Homo sapiens: one gene and its partners. The protein of the gene in region 1 interacts with the protein of each later gene in a pairwise test. Each region holds a gene or a part of one and is shown in the gene's direction. Other genes may lie near its edges.

The links. The genes of interacting proteins can lie anywhere in the genome.
Region 2: the proteins of ZNF333 (region 1) and GSN interact in binary tests that used the Homo sapiens proteins (3 or more experiments, as listed by UniProt).
Region 3: the proteins of ZNF333 (region 1) and LAMP2 interact in binary tests that used the Homo sapiens proteins (3 or more experiments, as listed by UniProt).

Annotation. Positions count from the first base shown.
Region 1 is NC_000019.10:14,713,386-14,721,802, forward strand, and holds part of ZNF333 (zinc finger protein 333), read left to right. Parts: intron 1-1,996; coding exon 1,997-2,085; intron 2,086-2,726; coding exon 2,727-2,853; intron 2,854-3,608; coding exon 3,609-3,704; intron 3,705-4,271; coding exon 4,272-4,348; intron 4,349-4,783; coding exon of another isoform or gene 4,784-4,842; coding exon 4,843-5,940; 3' UTR 5,941-8,417. UniProt on the Homo sapiens protein: May be involved in transcriptional regulation.
Region 2 is NC_000009.12:121,313,068-121,320,938, forward strand, and holds part of GSN (gelsolin), read left to right. Parts: intron 1-866; coding exon 867-956; intron 957-4,018; coding exon 4,019-4,151; intron 4,152-5,338; coding exon 5,339-5,427; intron 5,428-5,597; coding exon 5,598-5,813; intron 5,814-7,871. UniProt on the Homo sapiens protein: Calcium-regulated, actin-modulating protein that binds to the plus (or barbed) ends of actin monomers or filaments, preventing monomer exchange (end-blocking or capping).
Region 3 is NC_000023.11:120,451,520-120,459,390, reverse strand, and holds part of LAMP2 (lysosome-associated membrane glycoprotein 2 isoform A precursor), read left to right. Parts: intron 1-2,621; coding exon 2,622-2,740; intron 2,741-3,820; coding exon 3,821-4,034; intron 4,035-7,871. UniProt on the Homo sapiens protein: Lysosomal membrane glycoprotein which plays an important role in lysosome biogenesis, lysosomal pH regulation and autophagy.

The DNA of each region.
Region 1 (8,417 bases):
CCCTTAGATGGGCAGAAAGATTTGAGCCAATGGTTGGATACATGGTCTGGTGTTCAGATGTGAGAGTCAGCCTGGAGATTTGGGCTTCATCATGAAGTTTGGGAATTGACACCCAGAGAATGGGTGAGGTTGCACACCAAGGCAGAGAGAATTGAGGGAGACACGAAGAGGAGGGCCTGCAACCTGTGGACGCCAGCAACATGTTGGAGAAGAAGCTCTTACAGGAAAAAGAGGAGGCTGGGGTTGTGATCACTGATCACAGGCTGGGTGGGCTACAAGAAGGAGGGATTGGCTAGGTGCAGTGGCTTGCAGCTATAATCCTGGCTACTCAGGAGGCTGAGGTGGGAGGATCGCTTGAGGCTAGGAATTCAAGGCTAGCCTGGGCAACATAGTGAGACCCCCATCTCTAAAAAAATAAAAAAAAAATTAACAGGGTGTGGTGGTGCACACGTGTAGTCTCAGCTACTTGGGAGGCTGAAGTGGGAGGATCACTTGGGCCCAGGAGTTTGAGGCTGCAGTGAGCTGTGATTGTGCCACTGCACTCCAGCCTGGGTGACAGAGCAAGACTCTGGCTCAAAACAACAACAAACCCAGGAGAGATTGGATGATGAGCACACATCAGTGGGATTTCCCAGCACGGATGGAGGTCACTGGTGATTCCAGGGTGGTGCCAGCCCTTGGAACGGTGGAGATGGGAAGCAAGTGGGAGGGGAGGAAGTGGGCACAGAGGGTAGATAGCCCATGATAGGGAATGAAGAGATAGAGGTAGCCCAAGGGAAAAGTGGGGTGTTATGGCTTGAATTGTGCCCCTCCAAAAAGACATGCTGAAGTCCTAACCCTGTGAATGTGGCCTTATTGGAAATAGGGTCTTTGCAGCTGTAACCAAGTTAGGAGGTCACAAGGTTGGGCCCCAATCCAACATGACTGTGTCCTTATGAGAAGAGGAAGACGCCACGTGAAGACAGACACGCAGGGAGGGGACCGTGCGACGGTGGAGGCAGACATTGGAGTGATGCATCCACAAGCCAAGGAGCCCCAAGTGTCGATGGCCGCCACCAGAAGCCAGGGAGGGGCAAGGAAGGACTCTTCTCAGAGCGTCAGAGGAGGCGTGGCCCTGCTGAGCTTAACTTTGGACTCCTCGTCTCTAAAACTGCGAGAGGATACATTTCTGTGGTTTTAAGCCACTCAGTTTGTGATACTTTGTTACGGCAGCTGCAGAAAACACATGTGGGGTCAGGGATTGGGTGTGGGTCAGGTTTAAAAAAAGTGAGGGGAAAGGTCCCATCGGGAGGGAGAGGTGAGGATGCAGGGGATGAGGGATGATCTGGGAGTTGCTTGCTTGTCTGTCATAGGCCAGAAGGAGGATGCCTGGTGCAGAGCGAGGAGTGGTGTTGATTTGAAGGCAGGTGGGAAGGAAGTTTCTTTTTAAGGCAGACTTGCAGGTTGGTTGTGGTTTATCTGCCCTTGATTTGTGGTAAGTCCTGGAGCACCACTAGCCCTGCAGTGTAGAGGGGCAGAGAAAGGGGCCAGGCAGCCGGGGAGGAAAAGCTGTCCCAAAGCTGAGTCGGGACAGTGGTGGGGGCTGCAGGAGCTTTGGAGTCTCCTGGTGAATTATGGAGTCTATGGCTCTTGGGATATGGAATGAAGGCGTGCGTGTGTGTGTGTGTGTGTGTGTGCACGTCTATATGTCTCTTTGTGTGCTGGTCTGTGTGTATATGTTATATATATGAACAGGTGCATGTGGTATGTAACTGTGTATATGTGTGCGTGTTTGTGTGTATATGTGTGCATGTCTGTGTACGTGTGTGCATGTGATTGCATGCATGCGTGTGCAAGAGCTTGCAGATATGTGTCTGCATGTGTGTGTCCCTGTGAGTGTGTGCATGTGTGTGTGTACACATGTGATCACTCACAGCCAGGGTGGGCAGACTTGGGGCCTGTGAGTGTGCCCAGTAGGCCAGGCACCAACCCTCATGCCTCTTCCCTTCTCCCCTAGCTGTGCCTGCACGTGACCCTGCCTGGCTTCAGGAGGACAAAGTGGAGGAAGAAGCTATGGCTCCTGGGCTGCCAACCGCCTGTTCACAGGTAGGTAAGAACTTCTTGTTCTAAAAGAACACTGCTGTGCCCAAAGGCTGGACTTACCTTCTTCCTGTGACCTGTCTGGATCATCTCATAGGGTTGGTCTCCATGCTTTCAGGGACTGGGCCTCTTGCAGTGGGTGTCAGCAAGGGAGCATGGGCCATGATCCCACCACCTCATTCAGACCCTCCCCAGGCTGCTGAGCACCAGGAGGGAAAACAAAGCAAGGATGTCAGCTGTCCTCATTTTGTGGTCTTCATGGTCTCACTGAACAAAGAGTTGAGTCATTTTCCAGATAGTTCCCTCTTGCCTGTACCATGCTCAGGTCTGCTGGACCCTGGAGCTAGAAGGGGGACAAATCTGTAAGAGCTTCCTGGCTCCTTGTCAATAGATAAGTCCTGTCCAGAGGTCGAGGACTTGCAACATTAGTTATTGCCTCTTGCTGTTCTTACTTAAGGAGTGGAGAGTAGAGAGAGGAGTTCTAGTTCAGAGTCCTGAGCTAAGGGCCAGATTCTGCGGGATCTCAGAACCCTGTCTGAAAGTCCTCTGCCTGGGTTTTCCCTTCCCCAGGCTTGCCAGCCTCCAGCATCCTCTGGCGTACTGGTGGGGGTGGTCCCTGGCTGAGCCGGGATGGATGTGTGTTTTAGGAACCAGTCACCTTTGCAGATGTGGCTGTGGTGTTCACCCCAGAAGAATGGGTGTTTCTGGACTCTACTCAGAGGAGCCTGTATAGAGATGTGATGCTGGAGAACTACAGGAACCTGGCCTCTGTGGGTAAGGCAGCTTCATCTTTTCTTTCCTTTTTTTTTTTTGAGACAGAGTCTTGCTCTGTTGCCTAGGCTGGAGTGTGATGGCGTGACCTTGGCTCACTGCAACCTCCGCTTCCTGGGCTCAGGTGATCCTCCCACCCCAGCCTCCCGAGTAGCTGGGACCACAGGGTGCATCATCACACCTGGCTAATTTTTGTATTTTTTTGTAGAGATGGAGTTTTGCCATGTTTCCCAGACTGGTCTCGAACTTCTGGGCTCAAGTGATTCACCTGCCTCAGCCCCACAATGTGCTGGGATTGCAGACATGAGCCACTGTGCCTGGCCAAGGCTTTGCCTTTTCATCACATTTATGTACCAACCATAAGCTCTAGAAATTGTGCAAGTCTGGGAAACCTAGTGGTGAAAAAAAAGATAATTCCCACCTTCATGAGCTTCCAGTCTACTTACTGGCCTTTCTATGGAATGAAGATCTTTTTACTGCCCTGTCTTTCTGTGACTAAAAGTTTTTGGGCTTCTCAAAGGTATTCCTTAGCTAGGCCCTTGGTTTTGTAGACCGGAGAGCCTCAGTGTCCTCTGAGACCTAGTGAGGGAACTTGTATTTAGTTGCTCAGTGGAAGAGTTTGGCTGTGGCCATCAGAATTTAGGCACATGCATTTTGCCACTCCCATCTCTAGAGCCCCTAAAGACTTGAGAATATCGGCCCTGGTGTCAGGGCATGGCACAGTCCTCGCACAACATGTGTTTTTTTCTCATGAGCAGCTGATCAACTGTGCAAACCCAATGCGTTGTCTTATTTGGAAGAAAGAGGAGAGCAGTGGACCACTGACAGGGGCGTCCTCTCAGACACCTGTGCAGGTGAGCCCAGGCAGATCAGGTGAGCATCAGCTCTGGTCAGTAAGGGGAGTGTCCAGTTTGGAAACTGTCTTATCAGGGCAACCTATTCATACCTTTGACTGAGAAGCCTGTTTGGTTGAGCTCCCTTATTAAATGCCACCTTCTTTCCTTTTTCCCTTTCCTTTTTAATCTCTAAAACTTTGCATTCATCTCCTAGAAAGATCTGTCCTACTTTCTCTTCATATTTAATATTTCCATGTGTATATTTTATCCATTTCCTCCCCACTGTACATTCTTGCTAATATTTTTCCTCAACATTAGTCACAATCTTTGTAGAATCCTTTTTTGGTAAATTACCTACTATTTCCTTCCCATGTTCCTCTGATTACATAACTTCTCATCTAGCCACACACCTTAAAATTTTCCTTAACTTTTAGATGCATTCCTTCTCATTGCAATTTCTTCCCGTACATAGGACCAGTATTTGGGAAAAAAAGTCCACATGTGCCTTGCCTACTTTTGAGGTGACCTTGATCCCACAGTTTCTTTCTCTGTGTGCTTAACTTTTTCTTCCCTAATTCATTTCAGAACCTCAGTGTCAACCCCAAGAGGCAATTCCTAGCCAAGATACTTTTACAGAGATCCTGTCCATTGATGTGAAAGGGGTAAGGCTCACCAGGGATTATTCATGGTTCTCTATAGTAGGATGAGTCTGGGGTTAACCGTAAGTTAGAAAAGCAGCCCAAGAGCCAAGAGCGATTCGAGGCAAGAAGTGTTTACCCAGAAGGAAGCAGTTTCTTGGGAGAGAGTCCGTGAATGTCATGAATTGGTGGAAAACTAAATGTAGATCATGTTCGTACAAGTAAGCATTTTCACAGATATGACACATACAAAGTGTTTAAGACTTAATTTAGCCTTACACAAATTGGAAAAATTCTGCATCTAAGAAGCTGCATGAAAATAATGAAAAGATAGCTCTTTGCAACAGAGTATCCACCCTATTCCACTTGAAGGAACTCTGGATAGAAATGGTATGGACTCCATAAATGGTAAAAGTATCAGATATAGAACTGTCTTTTTCTTACATTCATTTCACATAGGGGAGAATATCTGTGAATCTAATAAGGCCTTTGGTCTTCACATTTTCCTTCATCGACAGGAGCAACCTCAGCCTGGAGAAAAACTCTATAAATATAATGAACTTGAGAAACCTTTTAACAGCATTGAACCACTTTTCCAGTACCAGAGAATTCATGCTGGAGAGGCATCCTGTGAATGTCAAGAGATTAGAAATTCCTTCTTCCAGAGTGCCCACCTAATTGTGCCCGAGAAAATCCGTAGTGGGGATAAATCCTATGCATGTAACAAATGTGAAAAATCCTTCAGATACAGCTCTGACCTTATCAGGCATGAGAAGACTCATACTGCAGAGAAGTGCTTTGACTGTCAAGAATGTGGGCAAGCCTTCAAATATTCCTCGAATCTCCGGCGACACATGAGAACCCATACCGGAGAGAAGCCATTTGAATGTAGTCAGTGTGGGAAAACCTTCACGAGGAACTTTAACCTGATTTTGCACCAGAGAAACCACACAGGAGAGAAGCCCTACGAGTGTAAAGATTGTGGGAAAGCCTTCAATCAGCCATCATCCCTCAGGAGCCACGTGAGAACTCACACTGGAGAGAAGCCCTTTGAATGCAGCCAGTGTGGGAAAGCCTTCAGGGAACACTCTTCACTGAAGACACATCTGCGAACCCATACCAGAGAGAAACCATATGAATGCAACCAGTGTGGCAAGCCCTTCCGGACGAGCACTCATCTGAACGTGCACAAGAGGATACACACAGGGGAGAAACTGTATGAGTGCGCGACTTGCGGTCAGGTCTTGAGTCGTCTTTCAACCCTGAAGAGTCACATGCGAACTCACACTGGAGAGAAGCCCTATGTGTGCCAGGAATGTGGGCGAGCCTTCAGTGAGCCCTCATCCCTCAGGAAACATGCAAGGACTCACAGTGGCAAGAAGCCCTATGCATGCCAGGAATGCGGGCGAGCCTTTGGTCAGTCTTCACATCTTATTGTACATGTGAGAACACACAGTGCCGGGAGACCCTATCAATGTAATCAGTGTGAGAAAGCCTTCAGGCACAGCTCCTCACTCACTGTACACAAAAGAACCCATGTGGGAAGAGAGACCATTAGGAATGGCAGCCTGCCTTTATCCATGTCTCATCCATACTGTGGGCCCCTTGCTAATTAACTTCCATTTTGTAAAAATATAAACACATGGGGCTATGACTTTCCCTCGTAATACTCCTTTAGCTGCATCCTGTGTTTCAATGTATAATATTTTCATTTTGGTTTAATTGTAAGTATTGTCTTAACCTCCATTATCGTTTATTCTTTGACCCATCTATTATTTGGAATTAGATTTTTCAAAACTAATATGTGGATATATTTTCATAGAGGTATAATGACTTATAGTGAAATGCATACATCTGAAGTGTACAGTTGGATGAGTTTGACAGATGCATACATGCATGTAACCACCACCCCATTCCAGATATAGAATGTTTCTATCTCTCTGGAAGGTTCCTGCATGTTATATGGCTATTTCTTAGTTGCCTTTTTGTTGTTGGTTTCTAATTTAATTACATGGTGAGAAGAGTATGTGGCCTCTTTGTTACTGAGTCATAGGTATTTGCTGAGATTTGCTATTAGGTCTGGTGTGGCTTATTCTTCTAGCTGCCAACCCAAATTACCCCTTCCTCCTTAGAAAAGAACCTGGGTTTTCTGTTCAGATTGGCAGTGTGCACTATTAAAAAGCTTCCATCTCCCGGCTGGGCACGGTGGCTCATGCCTCTAATCCCAGCACTTTGGGAGGCTGAGGCTGGGGGATCACCTGAGGTCAGGAGTTCGAGATCAGCCTGGCCAACATGGTGAAATCCCCTCTCTACTAAAAATATAAAAATTAGCCAAGTTTGGTGGCATGCACCTGTAATCCCAGCTACTTGGGAGGCTGAGGCAGGAGAATTCTTTGAACCCAGGAGGCAGAGGTTGCAGTGAGCCGAGATTGCGCCACTGCACTCCAGCCTGGGCAACAGAGTGAAACTCTGTCTCAAAAATAATAATAATAAAAAAAAGCTTCCATCTCCCAGCCCTTCTTGCAAGCAAGGGCAGGCCATTTCCTCCGGTCCTGGCTAGTATGAATATGAGAAGTCACTGGATGTGACTCTGGGGAAGATATTGTGTTCAGGGATGGTTTCATGTAGCCACATCTCTCCACTTCTTGCCTTTTGGACAAGTAGACATGATTTCTAGACCTAGAGGAGCCCTCCTGTGACCATAAGGGTAAAAGCCGCAAGCTAAGAAGAGGGTGGCCGGAAGTCATAACCATCTTGCTTCTGTAATCTAAAAAATATTTAGGATAGATTTAATAGAATTGGCATATTTATGTGATTGCAGCAGCCCTGGACTATTTATTTCTGGATGTCCCATACATGAAAAATATGCACTTCTTACTGGTACAGTTTTCTTTTGTTTGTTTTTGTTTTTGGTGGGAGGTTTATTTCACCTGAATATAATTCCTAACTGATGCACTTAGTATATGTCAGTTTTTATAAATGCTTCATGGATGGTTGAAATCAATGTATTGTATTCTACAAATGTCTGCTAGATCAAGCAAATGTGTTTAAAAACCATCTACACATTTATAAATGTTGATCTGTGATCTAGCATTTATTGAGAGAGGTATGTTAAACTCTCCCACCATGATTATGTATTGCTGAAAAATCTTTGTCATTCTGTCAGTTTTTAAATTTATGTATATACATACATATATATGTTTTGAAGCAATGAAATTAAATATAGATACTGACATTTTTTACATTTCCAACAAATTGTTACTTTTATTCTTATAAAGTGATCATCCTTTTCCCTATTACTGAACATTCAACCATTCATTGTAATGATAGTAAATACTTATTTAGAGTTTACTATTAATAGATAGTAGCCACTGCCTGAAGCTTTGCATCTTTTAATTTAGTCCTCACACTGACACTTTGAGGTATGTACTGTTATCCCCAATTCCCAGATGAGGAAGCTGAGGCCCAGCAAGTTAAGGTGGGCTATCAAAGTCATCTGGGTGGCATGTGACAGGCCTGACTCTCTCTACAGTGGCAGACCCAGGGGACTAGTCTCCATTTTTACTTGTTCTTTTTTTTTTTTTTTTTTTTTTTTTGGTTTTAAAGTTCTCTTAGGTATAACTTACATAAACGTTAATAAATCTTAGGGTACACCTTGGTGAATTTTGTATATGTCTATACCCACCACGGTCTCCATCAAAATATTTTATCGTCCCAGAAATTTCCCTTGGGCCCCACCTCATCCTCAAAGGTTATCACTATTCTGATGTCTATCACCATAGATTTGTTTTTCCTGTTCATGTAAATGGAACCATAAACAGCCCTCTTGTGTCTGTTTTCTTCACTTAATATAGTGTCATTGAGATTTATCTATGTTGTATTATCAGTAGTTTATGCTTTTTAATTGCTGTGTAATAGTCCATAGTCTGAATATACCACAATTTAAAAATTCTATTCTGTTTACAAACATTTGAGTTCTGTCCTCCAGGTTCATCCATGTTATCACAAATGACAGAATTTCCTTCCTCATCAAGGCTGAATAGTATTCCATTGTGTAGATATACCACATTTTCTTTATCCATTCATCCACCGA
Region 2 (7,871 bases), on another chromosome or scaffold:
CCAGTGGGGAGGGCCAGGTCCTCTGCAGAGCTAAGGAGGGCAGTCTCTTAGCATCCCCAGAGGGCCAGCTTTGTGCTAGAATAAGGTCAGAAAGAGACCACTGAGCCCCAATCCCCTCTTTTCTCTTCTGACTATTTCTGGTAGTTTTTGGCCCATTTAGTCACATGGTGGGATTGCCAGCCATTGTGCGTTGAGGACGTATCAATAGAGGCAAGATTCACTAGGAAAAGGAGAAGACCATGAGCTCTGCTCCATGTCACTTGGTTCCTGCTTCTCTGGGGGCATCCAATTCCAGCTTTTGGAGAGAGCAGAATGGTGATTATTATTATGGGAAGGGACCTGGACACCAACCATGGCTTGGGAGGGACAGTGGGAGTGAAAATAGGCTCTGAAGCCACAGGGATGGAGGTTCAGATTCTGGCTTAGCCACCTAATAGCTGTGTGAGTAGGTGACTTCATCTTTCTGGACCTCAGATTCCTCTTCTGTAAAATGAGAGTGATAATCTGTGCCTCCTGGCCTGGCTGCGAGGATGCAGTGACATCTTTTAAAGGTAGGCGGTAGAAGGTGTTCAGTAGCTATAGTTATCACAATTAGCCGGTAGGCGAAATATCTGAAGCGCTGTCTGGAGGCAGAGGAGCAGGAGTGTTCTCCTGGAGTTTCTGAGTCAGGGAGACAAGGTGGAAGGGACCTCTGATGGACAGATCTGGACATGTGAGCAGATGCAGGATGTGTCTGGAGGAGGTCAGACTCCATGGGGAGGGTCACAGTGGATGTCCTTGTGATCCTTGCCTGCCTGGGAGCTATCTCAGGAGCCTGGCCCCTCCCTCACAGCCACCCTTCCTCTCCATCTCTCTATCTCCTACAGGTGCTGGGCCCCAAGCCGGCTCTGCCTGCAGGTACCGAGGACACCGCCAAGGAGGATGCGGCCAACCGCAAGCTGGCCAAGCTCTACAAGGTGAGCACCAGATGCACTGTCTGCCTGGGCATGGGGTCAGGACAGGGAGGTGGAAGACTTGGTCTTCCCCACTCCACTGCTATGGGACCTTGAGCAAAGCACCCCTTTGGAGGGGGGCCTCAGCTTTCTCACGTCTCCAGTGGATGCTCGTGTACTTCCTTTGCTTTCCTGCACTAAGAGCATGCGATCAACTCCGTACATATCTGTGTCACGCTCATACATGAGGTCTCTCTGAGTCTCAGTGTCCTAGTCTGTAAAGTGGGAAGAAGAGCAGAATGGTCGACTTTGTAGGATTTCTGGGAGTCCACAGATAAAATGGATGTGAAAACAGCTTAGAAAATACTTGGGGAAATACTACAGAAATGGTGTGTATGTGGGGAGGTTGGGGGTGTGGGTTATAGTTAATGACTTTATTTATGATTTCTTTCTTGTGATTTTCACAACTGAATTCAGGCTTAGCTTCAGCTAGGGAACTCTCTTGGCTGAGCTCTGGGAGAAAGCTCAATCACACTTACGTTGTGCCCCAAGTATTTTCAGTAAAACAACAAAAAGGGGATGTCGATTTTCACCACTGCCAAAGAAAAACTACTACATTATCGATTTTTTTTCTGATTATGAAGTAATACATGTTTATTGTAAGAAAAAAAAGTATTCAAAATATAAAAAGAAAATAAAAGTCCATGCAATTTCACTGGTTTAAAAAACCAGTATTACTTTTAAAATATGTTTTAATTACAAAAATGACAATACCCAGTTAAAAAATCAGCCTCTCCTCCTCATGAGAGAACACATCTTTGTCCAGCCACAGCTTTCTGTGCCTAGTTACTTTTCCATTTCCATCTTATTATTTTATTTTGAGATAGGGTCTTGCTCTGTCACCCAGGCTGCAGTACAATGGCACAATCACAGCTCACTGCAACCTCTGCCTACCGGGCTCAAGCGATCTCTTGCCTCAGCCTCCTAAGTGGCTGGGACTACAGATGTACGCCACCACGCCCAGCTAACTTTTGTATTTTTTGTAGAGACGAGGTTTTGCCATGTTGCCCAGGCTGGTCTCAAACTCCTGGGCTCATGTGATCTGCCCACCTCAGCCTCCCAAAGTGCTGGGATTACAGACCTGAGCCAACGCTCCCGGCCATTTCTATTTTGTGTAACTGGATCCAAACTATTCATGCTGTTGTGTGGTCTTTTTTCCACTCAACATGGTCGGGAATATCTTTCTATAATAAATCTCAACACGACCCTTTATAACAGCTGTATAGTATTTTATTTTATGAATGTAAGAATTTAAGCAAATCCTGATTGATGGACATTAGGATGTTCCACCTTTTCCAGTTGCAGACAGTCCCTCTTGGTGCACTTGTGCTAAGTACAGCATAGCACTAGGGCAAGTTCCTAGACAAGGAACTGCTGGTCACAGGCCGAAGAATGAGTCAGTAGTTGAAAATACTGGTTCTGGGCCAGGCATGGTGGCTCACCCCTGTAATCCCAGCACTTTGAGAGGCCGAGGTAGGCGGATCACCTGAGGTCAGGAGTTCGAGACCAGCCTGGCTAACATGGTGAAACACTGTCTCTACTAAAAATACAAAATATTAGCCAGGCGTGGTGGCGGGTGCCTCTAATCCTAGCTCTCCTCCTAAGGGAGGAGAATCACTTGAACCCGGGAGGCGGAGGTTGCAGTGAGCTGAGATAGTGCCATTGCACTCCAGCCTGGGCGACAACAGTGAGACTCCGTCTCAAAAATAATAATAATAAATAAAATAAAAAAAGAAAATACTGGTTTTGGAGTCAGGAGTCAGACTACCTGTGTTTGAATTCCAGGTCAGCTATTTCTAGCTGTGCAAGTTCCTTAACCACTCTGTGCCTTGGTTTCCTTGTGAATGAGACAGGGATAGTAACAGAACTATCATATGCAAGGATTAAAGGGGTTCTATAATTATACAAGTTATAGAAATTGCTTAGAACAGTGACTGGCACAGAGTAGTAAGTACTCAATTCATGTAGAATAATTATTATTTAAAGGACTGCTACCTCACAGTCAACTGTACTCTGGAACAGCTCCCAAATTACTGTCATCAGGGATCTTAAATGCCTGTTTACCCAGAGCCTTGCCAACTGGATATTGTTAAACTTTTGAATTTTGACTCTTAAGATAGAACTTTTTTTTGAGCTTGGTTGAACTTTTTATTTTAGAATAATTTTTAAGTTTACAGAAAAATTGTAAAGATAGTACAAAGAGTTCCTATATACCATTCACTCAGCTTCTCCTTAGCATCTTAGCATAACCAGGTACATTTGTCAAAACTAAGAAATTAACATTGCTTCAGTACCATTAACTAAACTATAGACTTTAGCCAGATTTCCCCAGTTTTTTATTCTAGGTTCCAATCCAGGATACCAGATTGCATTTAGCTCTTTTTACTTTTCTTTTTCTTTTCTTCTCTTTTATTTACTTATTTATTTTTGAGACAGAGTCTGGCTCTGTTACCCAGGCTGGAGTGTAGTGACGCAATCATAGCTCACTATAGCCCCGACATCCTGGGCTCAAGTGATCCTCCCACTTCAGCCTCCCAAGTAGCTGGGGCCACAAGCAAGCGCCACCACACCTTGCTACTTTTTGTATTTTTTGTAGAGATGGGATCTTGCCATGTTGCCCAGGCTGGTCTTGAACTCCTGGGCTCAAGCCATCCACCCACCTGGGCCTCCCAGAGCGCTGGGATTAAAGGTGTGCGACACTGTAACCGGCCTCTTCTCTTTTTTTTGAATAGTAAAGTTGAATACATTTTCAGCAAACTATGCAGTTCCCCTCTGCACCCAATTCCCCAAATTTTATCCCGCCCTCCCTTCCCATGTGCAGTTTGTGTTACCCCTGCGTGTAGGTCAGCAGATGTGGTTCTGACAAAGCAGAAAACGAAAAAGAACCTCTAAATGTGTGCGAGAGGAAGCCCAGGTGTTACTCTACAGGGCCATTTGGGACAGGGGGTGGGGCAAGATGGTGGAAGTCTCAGGGCTGGGCGGCCACAGACACTCATGTGCTGGTTCCTTCTGCTTCGTCCCCTCAGGTCTCCAATGGTGCAGGGACCATGTCCGTCTCCCTCGTGGCTGATGAGAACCCCTTCGCCCAGGGGGCCCTGAAGTCAGAGGACTGCTTCATCCTGGACCACGGCAAAGATGGGAAAATCTTTGTCTGGAAAGGTACTGGAGACAGGGAAAGGGTCCCAACTGGCCTGTAGGATCTTGGATGGGATGTTCTGCAGCTCCCAGGAACTCAGCTCCCGGGGAGTGTGGAGTGTGCCTGGTGCAATGGAAATCAGAAGTCTTGGGCTGAGGCCTTGGTTTTGCATTTGACATACTGTGTGATCTTGGGCACTTTACTTACCCTTTCTGGGCCTCAGATTCCTGATCTGGGCTAAAATGGGTGTTTCCCAAGTGCATTATAACGTCAGTTCTCTGAGAGGCTAATTGGCATCCTGTAGAAATTATGTAGAAAACATCTAACTGTATGGTCAGATAAATTCATGGGCAACAGTGGATTTTAAAATGTTCGAGTTTGTTTACTGTAGGACTTTTAACTTGTTCATTTACAGGGGGGCTTTTCATGAAGATGATCTGGTTTGGGAAATGCTAAGCTAGAAGTTCATAAACTCTTTCGGTACTATCTTGTGGGAATTCTCTTGGAAACCATTGGCCCAGATGTTTCCCAGAGGCCCTGAGATGTTCTGAGAGGACCCATCAATATCCTCCCCTGATTCTCTAAGGCTCATCTTGGGGAAGAGGACAGAGGAGAGGGAGGCAGTAGGAGGACAGAGAGAAAGGGAGACGGTGGGGAGAAAGAGAGAGAGAGAGACACTATTATGATTATTACTCTCTAGGCCCCCTGGGCCCTGGGCCAGCTGATCTGGACCTTGGCCTTGGCAGTGAGAAGGCTGGGACTGAGGCCCAGCACTGGCTGGCCAGGAGCTCCTTGGCACGGGAATGCCCTCAGGGTGGCAGCTTCTCACTCACTGAGTAACCTAGGTCAAGTAATTTAATCTCTCTAAGACCCTAGCTTCCTTATAGATACTCAGAAAAAGATAACAACTTTTTTTATTACTTAAGACTATTCTGTGAATTAAATAATCTATGCATAGTTCTAAGCACAAAATACATGCTCACTAAATGGACCACAGTAGTGTTGTGATTGGTGTCACTGGCCAGCCCCAGGCTGGACACCAGGAGCTCTAGTGAGTGGTCGGCTCTGGGGGTCTCTGGCCTTGGCTGTCCACAGTCTAAGAAGAGTAGGGAGGGAAGTTTGGCAGCTCCTTCTCCTGGACTGTTAAAGGTCAGGATGCAGCAGGATCCCGGGCCTCTAACCCTCCATCACTTCCTCTGGCTGCCAACAGGCAAGCAGGCAAACACGGAGGAGAGGAAGGCTGCCCTCAAAACAGCCTCTGACTTCATCACCAAGATGGACTACCCCAAGCAGACTCAGGTGAGTCTTGGAGGCCAGGTAGGATGGGAAGGGGTGGGTCCTGTTTGGAGGGGATGGGCTGGAGTAGGGCGGGTGTCCCACCCTCAGTGTGGATGGGGTATCTGAGGCTCCCCTGGGGACCCCTGCTGGGCAGCCCAGCCACATCCTGCTCCTCTGCCTCCCCTCCCCAGGTCTCGGTCCTTCCTGAGGGCGGTGAGACCCCACTGTTCAAGCAGTTCTTCAAGAACTGGCGGGACCCAGACCAGACAGATGGCCTGGGCTTGTCCTACCTTTCCAGCCATATCGCCAACGTGGAGCGGGTGCCCTTCGACGCCGCCACCCTGCACACCTCCACTGCCATGGCCGCCCAGCACGGCATGGATGACGATGGCACAGGCCAGAAACAGGTACGTTTAGGGCGTGGGGTGGGTGTGTCCAGGCCCCTCCCTCACTTTCCCCATGCACTGCCTCTTGCTTCCCCAAGGAGGTTTCTCTCTGAGGTTTGCACAACTTTGGTAGCTGAGATTCTTTGGTGTTACTTAGTTTTTACAGCCAATGCACCCTGTGTATCAGGCCCTGAGCCAAGTGTCTTGGCCCCACCTTGCCCCGAGGAGTGCCTGGTCTGGGAGGGGAGTTGACCATAGCCACAGACCTGTGTGATCAGTGGAAGATGGGAGGGAGCACAGGGGATTGTGCAGACACAGGAAGCAGTGGGGGTGGTTGGTCAGGGCAGCCTGCACAGAGATGGGAACCTTTGGGTTGGGTCTCAGAGGAGGAGTAGAGCTTTGCTGCCGGAGAGGAAGAGCGGAGAGTGATGGGCATTCCAGGAGGGACTCGCTATGTTCGGAAAGGAGGGAGCTATCCCAGGGGGCTAGTGCTGATGGCATCCCCAGGGAGGGGCCTTGAATGCCAATTTCAAGGGTGTAGACTTGATCCTCTAACCAGTGGGTGCTAGTGAGGGGTTTTTCTTTTTATTAAATCAGACATGCAACAGGCTCAGATTTATGCTTTATCTTTTTTTTTTTTTTTAATAGAGACAGGGTCTCGCTATGTTGCCCGGGCTAATTTCAAACTCCTGGGCTCAAGCAATCCTCCTGCCTCGGCCCCCCAAAGTGTTGGAATTACAGGCATGAGCCACTGCGCCCGGCCACCTGCTTTAGAAACTCACTGTGAAAATGGGTTGGAATATGACTCCAGGATATCATTAGAAGAAAAAAATCAGTTAAAAAATAAATAAAAGAAAAATAAAAAGAAAACTAAGAAAATGGATTGGAGGCAGGAAAATGAAGGTAGAGAGCTTATAAGGAGCTTGTTCTAATACTGTAGGGGAAAGATGATGACCTTGAGACTAAGAAGGTCACAGTGGAGAAGGGGAAGAGGGGTGTGGGGTTCAGAGGTGTTTAGGAGGTAGAATCCGCCTCAGGCAAACTTGACTCCGTTCCTAATGATAGGAATAACAAAGTGTTCATTTTTATATATTATTGTTTTTGGTTTGGTGCTAGCATTCATTTGTTGCTTCAGTGGCTAGGGAGAATGCAATGAAAATATTTCGGGTGGGGCGGTGTGGTAAGACCCCTGGCAGCCTGACTGTGAGACTTTGGGCAAGTTACATAACCTCTTTGAGCTTCACTTTCTCACTTGTAAAGTGGGGTTTCATCCCACTCCATCACCTTCAAGAATGTTCAAAATCCAGAGATTCTAGGATTCTGTTTCCCAGGACTTGGACGACTCCGTGTCTCCATAGCTCCACCAGGTGGCGCTGCCGGGCCTCGTGACCACTTGGAAAAAGCAGTGTCACCAGAACGCTGCGGAGACCTGCCAGCAGGGGTCACACTGAGGTTGCCTCGTGGTGTCCCTGCCTCTGCAGGTGACCTATGAAATTCCTGGCAGGCCCAGCACAGTGGCTCACGCCTGTAATCCCAGCACTTTGGGTGGCCGAGGCGGGTGGATCACCTGAGGTCAGGAGTTCGAGACCAGCCTGGCCAACATGGTGAAACCCCGTCTCTACTAAAAATACAAAACTTAGCTGGCCATGGTGGCAGGCACCTGTAATCCCAGCTACTCGGGAGGCTGAGACAGAAAAATTGATTGAACCCGGGAGGCAGATGTTGCAGTGAGCCGAGATTGCGTCATTGCATTCTAGCCTGGGCAACAAGAGTGAAACCTCGTCTCAAAAAACAAAAAAAAAAAAAAGAAAAAAAGAAAGAATCCAGGCAGCTCAGTAACAATAGAGGTAATGGTGATATTAGTAAGATAATAATAATAATTATGACAATAAGAGCAGCTGCCACCTACAGAGCAGTCCCTTTGTGCCGGGCCCTGTGCTAGACTTTCACGAGTAATCTCGTTTGAGCCTCACAGTACTTTGAGGTAGGTACTATGATTATCCCCATTTTTCAGATGGGAAAACTGAGGCTAAGAGTGGTTAAGCCAGTTGTCTGAGGTCTCATGGCCCGGAAGGGGAT
Region 3 (7,871 bases), on another chromosome or scaffold:
GCAGAGCCTAGCACAAGTGGTCCTCCTTACTGCAAGGGAGTCTGGGAAAGCAAGTATCCAGTGTTTTCAGCTTTTATAGTGGGTGGTGATTTCTGCCAGAAATTGTAACAAGGGGACAAGGGGTGTTTCAGATTTGGGGCAGCCAAAAAGCGAGCAAAATCCATCTTTGAGGTGAGCATTTAGGCCAATAGAAGAAAGTAGATTTCAAGTGTTAGGAACAATAGAAGCCCAGGGTAGAGGTTGAATAGAGTATGGCATTTGAGCCCAGTGGAAACAAGTTTAACTGGATTAAAGGGTGTGCTCTGGGAAAATAGTTTGAGAAAAGTTGAAGGAATAGGATGGGACAAGATTAAAGATTACTTTGAAAGTCAGGCAGAGGAATTTAAATTTCATATGGGAATGTTGGAGCCAGTAAAAGTTTTTGAACAAGAAAGTGTCCTAAAAGGAAATGGTACTTAAGGATTATTAATCTGGCAGCACTTCTAGGGGTATCTAGGCATTTTCTGTCATAATTTAGGTGTGGGGTGATAGATTGGGAGTAGAAATAAAAGACAAAGATTGTATTTAAGAGAAGATTTGAAGGAAAAAAATCAATAGGACTTCTTGAAGAGAAAGAAGTAGAGGCTATTTCTGAAACTGAGCTTGAGTGACTGATCCCACTCTTCATTTAGAGCTAGCAAAGCTGAGGAGGGACCCAGTTTGGAGGAAGCAGAAGAATGAATTTTAGTTTGGGAATTGCTGAGTTTGAGGTGAGAGATATTGAGTAAAAGTGGTCCCTGTGCAGTTAGAGTTGGGGACCAAGAAGTGGAAAGAATTGCACTCAGGCAGAAAGGCTGTGAAGGGAATGGAACAGAGTGTGCCAGAACCCTCAGGGTGTTTCTCAGCTCTTGTTTACGGGCCACCAGGTATACTATCTTGAATTTAATTTTAAGTGATACGTTTGAACCACAACCTCTACCTTTTGTTTCATAAAACGTCAGTTCTCACACCCTAAGACACATTGATGCAAGCTATCGATGCTATTACTATTTTACATGGTCTTCTTCCTGTTATTCTAATATATTTGGAAAGAAAATGATTAATACATGTGAGGCTTTTCTTGGTAATTTTCAATACTTTTGAATGTTTTGAATACAAGGAGAATAATATACTAAAGCTAGAGACCTTAAACAAGACCGAGAAAAGACTGCATATAAAAAGCAAACCTCCAGTTCATTAAAATTGTAAGTTGGAGCTCTTGGCTCCATGGCAGGGAGCCTTGGATCAGTAAGTATAACAGCTCCCTTCCGTATTGTACTTAGAAAAGAATGATCATAAAACCTACTTAGGCCTCACAAGGTCTTTTTGAGCCTTAGCCAATGCATTTAGTCACTGTCAGTAACCACAAGCTTTAGTATAATATTCTGGCTTGCAAAGCAGCCAGGTCTCCAGAGCATGACGATAGGCTCTTCTATACAACTTGAAAGCTGTTGCTGAGGCATACCTTCTTGATATTCCTCTTAGCACTTTTCTCTAGTCTATAGCAAGTCTGTACCTGTAGATGACAGTGGATTGCTCAGATATTATTAAAGAGTATGCAAGTATCTTAACAGGAAACAGCTTACCCTTTGGGTAATGTGTGATACAGTGAAGAAAATCCCTTAAATGGTTGCCCAATATTTATGCTGCTGGCATGTTTGCTGGGATATTTTTTCTCCTCTGAATTAGTATTTTGAGTCCTTGGGCTCTTCAGTTTAATAGATAATGTTTCTATGTTTAAGTGTAGAAGATCCACCATGTTAGCTGAAAAGTTCCAAGGCTTTTCTGTCTCTGTAACATTTCTCTGCCTAAAGAGGTAGCAGGTTGAAAATTTAGGAAATAACTTTGCGTCAAAAAATTCATCAGCCTTTCTAATCAATTCGATTTTAAAGTGAAACAGTGATGAACTTTGCATTTATCAGAATTCATGTTTTTCTCATGGATTTAACAGCCCTTTGCAACTCTGCTTCCTTGGTTACATGATAGAAAGAGTATCTGATCACATCAGAATAAAATCGTTTGGGAAGACATCCGTGTGTCATAGATTATGTAGCTTGCAACAGGATTTAAAGCAAAAAGATGGTAGAATATCGGATCTATCATTATTTTTGCAGTGAATGTTTCACCAGCTGGTTTGAGAGAAGTTTTACACCCCTACCAGGCTTCCTCTTACCTCATTTACCGCAAAAACCACAAGTCCTAACAGGCAAACTGTAATTGCCTAAAACAAAACTAGTAAGGTATAAATGCATGTGGAAATGATTATTTGAAGGCAAAAGGCAAATAAATGTCACCAGTCTGAGCCATGACCTAAGCATCCTAGGTCTAGTAACCATTCTTTTGGTAAGGGATAATGCCAACTTTTTTATCAATAGGATTCTGTTAAAAATACAAAGAAAAACAGTCAGCAGGATACTGTATCTATACACATACATATATGTATATACACATATATGTATATATATGTATGTGTATATATAGATATAAAATACTTTTGTTTCATTTTAGAGCTGGTTGAACTTCAGTGGTGGGTAGAGCTTGTTTTTAATTTATATAATTTTTGTAGTACAATTTTAAAATATTATTTTTTTAAATGAATCCAGGAGCTGTGCGGTCTTATGCATTGGAACTTAATTTGACAGATTCAGAAAATGCCACTTGCCTTTATGCAAAATGGCAGATGAATTTCACAGTACGCTATGAAACTACAAATAAAACTTATGTAAGTATATATTTTAATTTTTCTTTGAGTTTTATAGTAGGAATTTAATTGACTTTATCCTTTAGATACACGTATACAAATGAAATTCCACGTTGACTGACTTAATGCTGAAACTCTGGGATTTTTTTTAAGCATACACACTCAGAAGTTATTCTGTTTAGTGTTAGAATGAATATTTCTTCTGATTCATTGGTTCTTGGGAGTTTTTGTAGGACTTGATTAAGGGCAAATGATCTGAAGACGACTATATGGTGTTCAGGTCTAAGTATTTCTGTAAAGTGTTTAAAATGTACTAGCACCAAAGCTTGCCCTTTTAAAAAGCAGCTTCCCATCTGGGCATGGTGGCTCATGCCTGTGATCCCAGCATTTTGGAAGGCCAAAGCAGGAGGATTGCTTGAACCCAGCCCGGGCAACATGGTGAGACCTCATCTCTACAAAAAAACTTTAAAAATTAGCCAGGCATGGTGGCACACACATGTACCTCCAGCCACTCGCTGGGCCGAGGCTGGAGGATTGCTTGAGCTCAGGAGGTTGAGTCTGCAGTGAGCCATGATTGTGCTACTGCACTCCAGCCTGGGCAACAGAGCGAGACTCTATCTCAAAAAAAAAAAAAATCGCTTACTTAGGTTGGTACAAAAGTAATTGCCATTAAAGGAACAAACCACAATTACTTTTGCACCAACCTAAGTAAGCGATTTTTTTTTTTGGCACAAACTGCAATTACTTTTGCACCAACCTAACACTAAAATCTCCCCCTTTTTGACATCTCCTCTTAATTCCTTTGCCTTCTTATTTTCTTTTTGTTAAGGTCCTCACTACTTACAACCTAATTTTTTAAAAAATCAGTTTAAGAACAGCAGCTCAAGCCAGTTTTCCTTTTCTTTTTAGACATACACGAATTTATCCAGAGGAGTGGTATGTAGCAGAAGAATCAGGGACTGGTTTACACAGCAAACCAGGCAAAGGGCAACCTGGCCATGGAGAATGTATGATTTAGGCTGAAGTGGCATGCCCTACATAAATGCTTGGTGTTCCTTGCTGCCTGTTTGTTTCTCACCCCCAAATTTCTATTTCTTTTAGAAAACTGTAACCATTTCAGACCATGGCACTGTGACATATAATGGAAGCATTTGTGGGGATGATCAGAATGGTCCCAAAATAGCAGTGCAGTTCGGACCTGGCTTTTCCTGGATTGCGAATTTTACCAAGGCAGCATCTACTTATTCAATTGACAGCGTCTCATTTTCCTACAACACTGGTGATAACACAACATTTCCTGATGCTGAAGATAAAGGTAACCTTAAGAATGGATTTGTGTTATGTTCTCTTGCTTTTTATTAATGATAAAAATGTAAACAATTTTAAAATTGTTATGAATGTCTGTCTTCCTAACTAGCATGGAAACTTCATGTCTTTATAACCCTCCCACTGACCCCATGCATGGCACATATGACACCATCCAACATACTGATGATATTTGCTGTCATTGCTTGAGTGACTTACTGTATACCAGGTATTATCCTAGTATACAGTAAGTCACCTTACTATATATATCCTAGTATACATATATATGTGTATATATATACATATATATGTATATCCTAGTATATATGTATATATATATATACACATATATCCTAGTATATATATACACACATATCCTAGTATATATGTATATATATATCCTAGTGTGTGTGTATATATATATATATATATCCTAGTGTGTGTGTGTGTGTATATATATATATATATCTCCTAGTATACAGTAACACACCTAGTGTGTTACCTGCAGCATCTCACTTAATTCTTAACAGCAACCCTGGGAAGTAGATGTTGTTTCATTTTTACAGGTAAAGGAAATGAGGCTTGATAAGATTAAATGACTTTTCCAAACATCACACAGTCTGGTAAGTGGGCGAGCTGGTGTTTGAAGCAGTCTATTGACCTGCAGAATTCATATACTTAACTATTATTGATTTCATTCAGTAGTGTGCATGAAACAAAGGTTTGATGAATGAGAAAATGCTTTACTAATAGCTACTTTATTTTCAAGATCGGGGGTTGGGGGGGGTGTCTCACTATGTTGCCTAGGCTGGTTTTGAACTCCTGGATTCAAGCGATCCTCATGCCTCACAGCCTCCTGAATAGCTGGGACTACAGGCATGCACCACTGTGCCTGGCTACTAATAGCTATTTTAAATGTGTAAAAGTTAAGTAACCTGAGACTAGGAGAAATGCCTCTTGTTCAAATCTTTTTATCATTTAGGTTGGATTTTGATTGAAAAGTAAATGATGATTAGTTAAAGGTGTAGTAGTCCCTCATTACACTCAGGGGGTATCATTCTAAGATCTCCCGTAGATGCCTAAAACTGCAGTTACTACTAAACCCTATACAGGAAATGCTATGTTTTTTTTTTTTTTTTGATCTGATAACTGACATGGCTACTAAGTGACTAACGGATGGATAGTGTAGACAACGTTGATATACTGGACAAAGGGATGATTCATGTTCCTGGTTGTGCAGAGCGGGACAGCAAGAGATTTAATCATGCTACTCAGAATGGCGTACATTTTAAAACCTATGAATTGATTACTTTTGGAATTCTCCATTGAATATTTTCAGAGCTCAATTGACCATGGGTAACTGAAACCAGGGAAAGCAAAAACCGTGGATAAGGGGAGACTAAAGTCAACATTTGCTGTTATTTTAAGACAATTTCAGGTCAAAATGAACTTGGGAAGCATTGGCAATTAGGCCATTCTAGTAATTCCCAGAACTGAAATGCGTGTTAAAATATTTTGAAGATATAGAGTGTAGAGATTTTATTTTATTTTATTATTTTGAGCTGGAGTCTCGCTCTGTCGCCCAGGCTGGAGTGCAGTGGCCTGATCTCGGCTTACTGCAACCTCCGCCTCCCAGGTTCAAGCAATTCTCCTGCCTCAGCCTCCTGAGTAACTGAGATTACAGGTGCGTGCCACCACGCCCGGCTAATCTTTGTATTTTTAGTAGAGACAGGGTTTCTCCATGTTGGCCAGGATGGTCTCGAAATCCTGACCTCACGATCCACCCACCTCAGCCTCCCAAAGTGCTGGGATTACAGGCGTGAGCCACCGCACGTGGTCGAGATTTTAATTTTGTTAGGGATATAATTCTCTTCTTTCTCCCCCTGCCCGTTGAGATTGAGTTAATGTGGTATTTGTAGTAGCTTAGCTCTTTGCAGATAGTGTTTCATTCTGACCCCAGAAACAGGTAGATGGGCTTTAGTTGCCTAGACCTGGGGATTAATAACTCATTTGGACTTAAGGATGTCAAAAGATCCTATTCGAAAGAACCAGAAGTAAATAAGCTCACGTAAAATTTGGGAGGTATTGCAGAATGAGACTTGGAAATCAAATCCTAGTGTTCTTTTTACTAATCTCTTAGTTTGAGAGTATAACTAAAGCAAATGGTTATTGGCTATCTTATCAGTTTATCTTTGTGCCCTGTTTTGCCTTTCAGAGCTAGTATAAGATATGCCCCTCACTTTCAAGTAGCCTAAGAATGAGCTGGGGAGACAAAGCTAAATGCTATTCCCGAGTTACATGGAAAAATTGGAAAACATTGAGCTCAGTCTGATTTTGTTGTTGTTGTTTGCGTTTTTGTTTGAGGGAGTAGAGGGTTCATAAATCTCTTCTGACAGTGTGAGGAAAACTTTAGACTCCCTCTCAAAAAAGAAAAAGTACACAGTAAACTTTGCATATGGAACATAGTCCCTGAACCCATATGTAGATCCCTGTGGTTAAGAGTGCCTGATTTAGGTCGAGAATGGTAGCTCATGCCTGTAATCCCAGCACTTTGGGTGGCCGAGGCAGGCTGATCACTTGAGCCAGGGAGTTCAAGACTAGCCTGGGCAACATATTAAGACTTTGTCTCTACAAAAAAAAAAAAAAAAAAAAAGCCAGGTGTGGTGGCGTGTGCCTGTGGTCCCAGCTACCTGGGTGGCTAGGGTGGAGGATCGCTTGAGCCCAGGAGGTTGAGGCTCCAGTGAGCTGTGATCCCACCACTACACTCAGCCTGGGTGACAGAGAGAGAGAGACCCTGTCTCAAAAAAAAAAGAAAAGAAAAAGAAAAGACTGGCTGATTTAAAAGTGTTCCCGTGTTCCCACAAGTGGTCCTGATTAGGAGGAGTGATAAAGGAAGGCTCAGTGTGTGTTAGAGTAGTGAGAAAGCTTGGTAGAGAAGTAGGACCTGAGCTGAAACTCAGCTAATGGTAGAATTTGAGTAAGCGGAGGATTTTGAGCAGGATGTTTCCAGCAGGGGGAAGCATAGCATATGCGGCAGTAATTGGAGAGCTGCCTGATTAAATCAGGCTGTGTGTGTAGCAGAAGGAAAATAAAGTTGGCTAAATGAAGTGGGCCTAAATTATAGGGGGCCTTGGAAGCCAAGGAAAGACATTTAGCTTGATGGGGCAGGCACTGGGGAATCATTTTAGGTTTTTAAAGCAGGAGAATGATATAACAAAAGCAGAGACAGTAGCTTATAAAGAATATTCTGCAGGATTAGTTGAGAAGTGAGGAGGCTACAAGCAGAGATGCTGGCTTAAGAAGCTGTTATAGTAATCAAGGGCTGATGTAATAAATGCCTGGACTACAGGGGCATCAGTTGTTAGCAGTTATTAGGAGGAGGTGTTTAATCTGACATATTTGGATAGAAAAACTATGGACCCTGAAATGTTAACACTTCTCTCTTTCCCCTTTTATTTAAAACAAAGGGAGGATTACTTTTTAAATTACTACCTTCTATATAATAATATTTGAAACTATTTGGAATGTTAAATGGCTTCCTGAAATGGACTATTAATAATTGTTTTTGATATAGTTCAGTGTTTCAAGAATACTAATTTATGGCTGGGCGCAGTGGCTCACACCTGTAATCCCAGCACTTTGGGAGGCTGAGGCTGGTGGATCATTGGAGGTCAGGAGATTGAGACCAGCCTGGCCAACATGGTGAAACCCTGTCTCTACTAAAAATACAAAAATTAGCCGGGTGGTAGTGGTGCGTGCCTGTAATCCCAGCTACTCAGGAGGCTAAAGCAGGAGAATCGCTTTAACCTGGGAGGCGGAGGTTGCGGTGAGCCAAGATTACGCCACT